2 linked regions of the Homo sapiens genome follow. The protein of the gene in region 2 purifies or fractionates together with the protein of the main gene of each other region. This does not show direct contact. Each region holds a gene or a part of one and is shown on either strand. Other genes may lie near its edges.

Region 1 (3,500 bases), on a different chromosome or scaffold from region 2:
ATTAGTCGACCATTTCTGGTTTCTCAGTTCTATTCCATTGAACTAGATGTCTTTGCTTACAACATCTTGATTACTGTAGCTTTCTTTTTTTAAAGTTAAAAAATTTATAAAGTAGAAGTGGGGCTCAGGCTCGTCTGGTGGCCTAGGCTCGTCTGGACCCCTGGCTGCAAGTGATCCTCCCGCCTCAGCCTCCCAAAGTGCTGGGATTACAGGCGTGAGCCTCTGGGGCCTGGCCACAATTGAGTTTTGTTTATTGATCTCGTATCCTGCAACTTTGCTATGAGTTCTAACCTTGTCTTAGTCCTAATAGTTGTTTAATGGATTCCTTAGGGTTTTCTATATACAAGGTCATGTCATCTGCAAATAGAAATAGTTGTACTTCTTCCTTTCCAATGTGGATGCCTTTTATTTCATCTTATTGCCTCATTGCCCTGGCGAGAGCCTCCAGAACAATGTTGACTAGAAATGACAAGGGCCCATGCTCATCTTGTTCCTGACTTAGGGGAAAGCTTTTAATCTTTCGCCTTTAAGTCTGATGTTCGTTGTGGGTTTTTCATAGATGCCCTTCATCAGGTTGAGGAGGTTACCCTCTATTCCTAGTTTGTATGTTATTATACTTTTAAATAGCAGCAGCAGAGCATGTAAGAAGATATGAATAAATACATGGCGAGAGGTTCGCAGTTGATTAAGTGGGGGGAAGAGTTTACTCCATTCATCGTGAATCTGATCTCTGTGAGTAGGAGGATGTGTTAGTTGAACAACTTTAAAAAAAAAAAAAAAAAAGAGGGCGAGGTGGGTGGATCACGAGGTCAGGAGTTTGAGACCAGCCTGGCCAAGATGGTGAAACCCCGTCTCTACTAAAAATACAAAAAATTAGCCAGGCAAGGTGGCGGGTGCCTGTAATCCCAGCTACTCTGGAGGCTGAGGCAGGTGAATCGCTTGAACCCAGGATGCCGAGGTTGCAGTGAGCAGAGATCGCACCGCTGCACTCTAGCCTGGGCGACAGAGCAAGACTCTATCTCAAAAAATAAATAAATAAAAAATAAAAATAGAGACAGGGTCTTGCTGTATTGTCCAGGCTGATCTCGAGCTCCTGGACTCAAACCATCCTCCTACCTTCGCCTCCCAAAGTGCTGGGATTACAGGTGTTAGTCACTGCCCCCAGCTTGAACAAACTTTGTAAGATGCAGGCTATTGTGCAAAATTTTAGCACTGTAAAAAATATCCCCTTATTTTATCAAATATACCTTTATCTTGAGGCATATGTCTATTTTCACCTACTTGTAACTTACACTCTTGATTACTTTTGGTTGTCTTTTTACTCTTGTTCTAATTATCTTTTTTTTTTTTTTTTTTTGAGACGGAGTCTCACTCTGTCGCCAGGCTGGAGTGCAGTGGCGTGATCTCGGCGCACTGCAACCTCCATCTCCCGGGTTCAAGCAATTCTCCTGCCTCAGCTTCCTGAGTAGCTGGGACTACAGGTGCCCACCACCATGCCCAGCTAATTTTTGTATTTTTAGTAGAGACAAGGTTTCACCATGTTGGCCAGGATGGTCTTGATCTCTTGACCTCATGATCTGCCCTCCTCGGCCTCCCAAAGTGCTGGGATTACAGGCATGAGCCACCACGCCCGGCCCTAATTATCTTTTATTGTACAGAAGCATTTTATTTTCATCAGAGTACATTCATCTTGATTGAGATATTTTACAGTAGTTTCTCTCCCCATGCTGGCTGGGCGTGGTGGCTCACGCCTGTAATCCCAGCACTGTGGGAGACTGAAGCAAGCAGATCACCTGAGGTCAGGAGTTTGAGACCAGCCTGGCCAACATGGTGAAACCCCATCTCTACTAAAAATACAAAAATTAGCTGGACATGGTGGCACACACCTGTAATCTCAGCTACTCAGGAGGCTGAGGCAGGAGAATTGCTTGAACCTGGGAGGCAGAGATTGCAGTGAGCCAAGATCACACCACTGCACTCCAGCCTAGGTGACAGGGCAAGACTCCCGTCTCAAAAAAAAAAAAATTATCTTCCCACTATAGTAAGAAAGTAACAGCGTTTTATGACTTGGAAAGTGTCTTCATATAAAATCTTATTTGAATCTCCCAAAATATAGCAGAGATGATCCCCATTTTACAGATTAAAATATGGATACCAGAAATGTTTGAATCATTTGTCAGGATATTGGCAGCAGAGCAGGGGCTAAGGGCATGCTATCTTTTTAAGGCACTTCATATTAATTTTTGTATTTATATACAAAAATTATACACTCCTTGACTCCTTGACTTCGTCGAACATATGACATTCAAACATATCAATAGGGTGGAGGAGAATCCAAGGATAGCTTGCCACTGTATTCATTTCTTATGGCTGCCATAACAAGTTACTGCAAGCTGGGTGGCTTAAGACAAGAGAAATTTATTCCATCACAGTTCTAGGGGCCATAATTCCAAAATCAAGATGTCAGCTTGGTTCCAAAGACAAGGGATTGTTGCTTCTTGGAGGCTTAGACGGGGCCGTTACTCCGCGCATCTCTCCCGGCTGGATGGGTGGCTGCCGGCAGTCCTTGGCATCCCCTGGCTTGCAGCTGTCCAAGTCCAGTCGCTGCTTCTGTCTGCACCTGGCTGTGTGTCTGGATTAAGGGCACACCCTATTCCACTATGACTTCATCTTAGTGACATCTTAAATACTTCTCCAAAGACCCTAATTCCAAACAAGGTGACATTACAGGTACCATGGTTAGGACTACAATGTATCTTTTTATTATTACTATCTTTTAAAGGGATAGGGTGTCACACTGTCATGTAGGCTGGAGTGCAATGGCACGATCGTAGCTCATGCAGCCTCAACCCCCTAGGGCCTAGCGATCCACTCACCTTAGCTTCTCGAATAGCTGGGACTACAGATGTGTGCCACTATGCCGGGCTAAGTTTTTAATTTTTTTGTAAAGACGGGGTCTCCGTGTTGCCCAGGCTGGTCTTGAACTCCTGGCCTCAAGCAATCCTCCCGCCTTGGCCTCCCAAAGTGCTGGGATTACAGCATGAGCCTCCAGGCCTAATGTATCTTTTGAGGGGGCACAGTTCAGCCCACAGCAGCCACTAACAGAGTTCTCTTCTGTCCTCGCTCCCCCACCAGGTGCCCCTGTAGACAATGGCCCTCGTGTCTGCCGATTCCCGCATTGCAGAACTTCTCACAGAGCTCCATCAGCTGATCAAACAAACCCAGGTAAAAAGTCACCACCCTCCATTCCCAGATGGGAACATGGGCTTTGATGCTGAGCCGTGAAGTGGGGGTGGCATTTGTGTTCAGAGAGATTGGACTCGCAGGAACCAAAATGACGTAATAAAAGTGAAAGGAGGGGAATTTGGTGTATGGCTACCATTCCTGTTGGATTTTCTACCATGTACAGGATTTCATGATTCATTTTGTTTGACAGCTATCCTGAGATAGAATTCACATGCCATACAACGCACCCATTTAAAGTGTATAATCCAGTGGTT
Region 2 (3,500 bases):
AGGGGCGTTCTGCAAAAGAGCAGGCTTGGATTCTTCACCAAAAAACTCAATATCCTAAAAAGTAACAAAAAATGGGGGAAGGACCATTCTAGATTAAAAGAAGCCAAAGGACATAATATCTAAATGTGATGAGAGAATCCTGATTAAATCCTAGCTCTAAAAAAAGTATCAAAGACATTTTGGGGAGAACTGAGTAAATTTAAATGTGGACCAGATAAAGGATGCCATAGAATTTTTACTAATTTTCTTATTTGAACAATGGTACTGTATTAGGAGAACATCCTTATTCTTAGAAAATGCATGCTGGAGTTTTCCTTTCAAAGGGCTCAGCCAAAGAAAATATACAAGTGTGTGTTATAGACAGAGGTGTGTACACATCTACAGAGACAGCAGTGCTGCAATACAACAACAGGTGAACCTAGGTGAAGGATAAGTGGGCGTGTCTGTTACAGACAGGTGTGTACACATGTGTAAATAGAGACAGCAGTGCTGCAATACAACAACAGGCAAACCTAGGTGAAGGGGAAGTGGGCGTGTGTTTCAGAGAGAGGCGTGTACACATGTGTAAAGAGAGACAGCAGTGCTGCAATACAACAGGCGAACCTAGGTGACAGGGTAGTGCGTGTTGTGTGTTACAGACAGTGGTGTGTACACATGTGTAAAGAGAGACAGCAGTGCCGCAATACAACAGGTGAACCTAGGTGAAGGGTTAGTGGGCGTGTGTTTCAGAGAGAGGTGTGTACACATGTGTAAAGAGACAGCGGTGCTGCAATACAACAGGTGAACCTAGGTGAAGGGTTAGTGGGCGTGTGTTTCAGAGAGAGGTGTGTACACATGTGTAAAGAGACAGCAGTGCTGCAATACAACAGGCGAACCTAGGTGAAGGGTTTGTGGGTACACTGTACTACTCTGTTGGTTTTTATGTAGGCTTGAAACTTTTCTAAGCAAAAAGCTTAGGAAAGCACTGCAGGCGCAGGAGTGAGACCATCTTGCTCCTCCCGTCCTCTAGGCCTCCGACTGCCCTTCCAATGAATTCTCATGAGAAACAGCAGGGCAGTCATGCGGGCCCCTCTGCCCCGCCCTACACAGTGGTGCCAGGTGGTGGGCCCAGGTCCAGCCAGGGCTTTGCTGTGGGGCCCCTCTGCATCTGGTGGACGTCGGGGAGCACCACATCCAAGCTAACATGCATGGGAAGCAGCGCTCCCCGAGCTGCAGCATCTTCCTCACCAATGAGCTGGCCTGCAGCGGGGTCAGGCCCATGTGGCGGAGCTCATGGGGGCCCAGCTCAGCGCCTGCTGCACCCTGATGCAGCAACAACACAGTGCTGCGTTCAGCCACTGACCACCGGGAGGTCTGTATTACTATGGCTATCGCTGACGGAGCTGGCAGAATAAACGCTGACCTGATGTCAGGACGGAGCAGTTTAATGCGTGTGATGCCCCCAGAACAGACCCAGGCTGCCATAAAGATCTCTACGCATGGTCGTGACTGCTGCCTGCTCCCGTTCCAGCCTCAGAGTCAAGGAATTAGCTTTCCAATCTCAAGCTTCTTTTTAAAAACGTTGTCCTGGCCAGACGCGATGGCTCACACCTATAATCCCAGCACTTTGGTAGGCTGAGGCAGGCGGATCACCTGAGGTTAGGAGTTCAAGACCAGCCCAACCAACATGGTGAAACCCCACCTCTACTAAAAATACAAAAATTAACCAGGCATGGTGGTGGGCGCCTGTAATCCCAGCTACTAGGGAGGCTGAGGCAGGAGAATCGCTTGAACCCGGGAGGCAGAGGCTGCAGTGAGCCGAGATCATACCACTGCACTCCAGCCCGGGCGACAGAAAGAGACTCCGTCTATTAACAAACAAACAAACAAACAAAAAGTCCTATTTTCCTTTCCAACATCTTACTAACATTTTGAACATTAAATCTAAAACTTAGTAACTAACGTTAAACATATAAAACAGATTTTCATATTTGGAGTTCATTTATAAACCTTTCAATGCACACTGCTTATCCAGACGTCGGGGTGGAGAGCAGCACTGGTGGGAGGTAGGGGGAGCATGGAGGAGCGAGGAGCGGCCGGGAAGATCCCACAGGCATGGCTGGCAGGAGACTTGCCAGTGGACCACAGTGGGGCATGATGGGGGAACGGGGAACAGAGATTAAAAGAGAAGAACCAGGGAACACTCTAGGTAGACAGCCCCCGTGACTGGGCAGACGGTCTCATCATTGACTGAGCAGGGCCAGACTGGGGGAAGGAGACGGTCACGGAAAGAACTGAAGAGTTCTGTTAAGACCTTACACGGCTGGGCGCGGTGGCTCACGCCTGTAATCCCAGCACTTTGGGAGGCCGAGACAGGCGGATCACGACGTCAGGAGATCGAGACCATCCTGGCTATCACGGTGAAACCCCATCTCTACTAAAAATACAAAAAACTAGCCAGGCGTGGTGGCAGGTGCCTCTAGTCCCAGCTACTCGGGAGGCTGAGGCAGGAGAATGGCGTGAACCCGGGAGGCGGAGCTTGCAGTGAGCCGAGATAGCGCCACTGCACTCCAGCCTGGGCGACAGAGCGAGACTCCGTCTCAGAAAAAAAAGACCTTACACTTGAGTTGCCGGAGAGAAACCCAAGCAGAGAGGGACACACTGGATTGAGGGTCTATGTCTGTGTTTGCGCGTCTATGTGTATACCTTCTCCCAGAATATACCACGCAGACACGTGTAATAACAAAAACTAGATGGAAAAGATCCAGGAGACACCCCGTGGGTAGGAGTAACAGCTCCCGCGGCTCCTATGGTGGCGTGGCCGGCCCCTGTGCTCAGCTACAGGCTCTGGCAGCCCTGCTCTTCTCTAACCCTCTCCACCCACTCCCCCATTCTGTCTGCATTAAACTTCTTGAGAGAACTTCGGAGGGTGCCTTCTCTTAATCTCCTACATCCTTTGAAATAGCCAAAATGGAGCTAAATGTTTAGAAAAAGAATAGCAGAATTTGAAAGGTAGTTATTTTTTTGAAAGATAGTAGAGTCGGAAATACTGAAAATTAAGGCTAGAATTAAGTTTTCATGTCAACCCACAGAACTTTTTCATGACTAAGGACAGATGTCTAAACTACCGCAACTCACTCCGTGTGTCCCTGGAAAACATTCACCGAGTGGATGGAGGGGTCCCTGAAATCCCAGAGGCGGAAAGTCGTGTCACGGGAGGAGGTCACCACGAGCCGCTGGGTGGGGTGTGTGCAGCAGTGCGTCAACTCCTGGTCGTGCCCTGTAACCAAGATGGCAAAACACAAGGTCATCACCTGAGGAGCACGCTGAGAGAGACGCTTTTCAACAGCACAAGAACCCAAGAAGCCGTCTCTCTGAGACTGTGAACCTGACCTAATGGAATCACTCAGCAGCATGTGGGTCACAGTGGGGCAGGTTTTCCCTCAGAAGCTGAAGTCCTTTCAGCCGTCCATGTCAAAGGAACAGAAAACCAAACAGGTGCATAACCCATTTTCTGACCC

Evidence for each region. The genes of interacting proteins can lie anywhere in the genome.
Region 1: the proteins of WDR37 (region 2) and SGF29 purify together in Homo sapiens (affinity purification with mass spectrometry; 5 studies listed by BioGRID and IntAct, with this or other methods). This does not show direct contact.

The regions. Positions count from the first base shown.
Region 1 is NC_000016.10:28,577,920-28,581,419, forward strand, and holds part of SGF29 (SAGA-associated factor 29), read left to right. Parts: intron 1-3,135; 5' UTR 3,136-3,150; coding exon 3,151-3,225; intron 3,226-3,500. UniProt on the Homo sapiens protein: Chromatin reader component of some histone acetyltransferase (HAT) SAGA-type complexes like the TFTC-HAT, ATAC or STAGA complexes.
Region 2 is NC_000010.11:1,104,885-1,108,384, reverse strand, and holds part of WDR37 (WD repeat-containing protein 37), read right to left. Parts: intron 3,260-3,500; coding exon 3,118-3,259; intron 1-3,117. UniProt on the Homo sapiens protein: Required for normal ER Ca2+ handling in lymphocytes. Together with PACS1, it plays an essential role in stabilizing peripheral lymphocyte populations.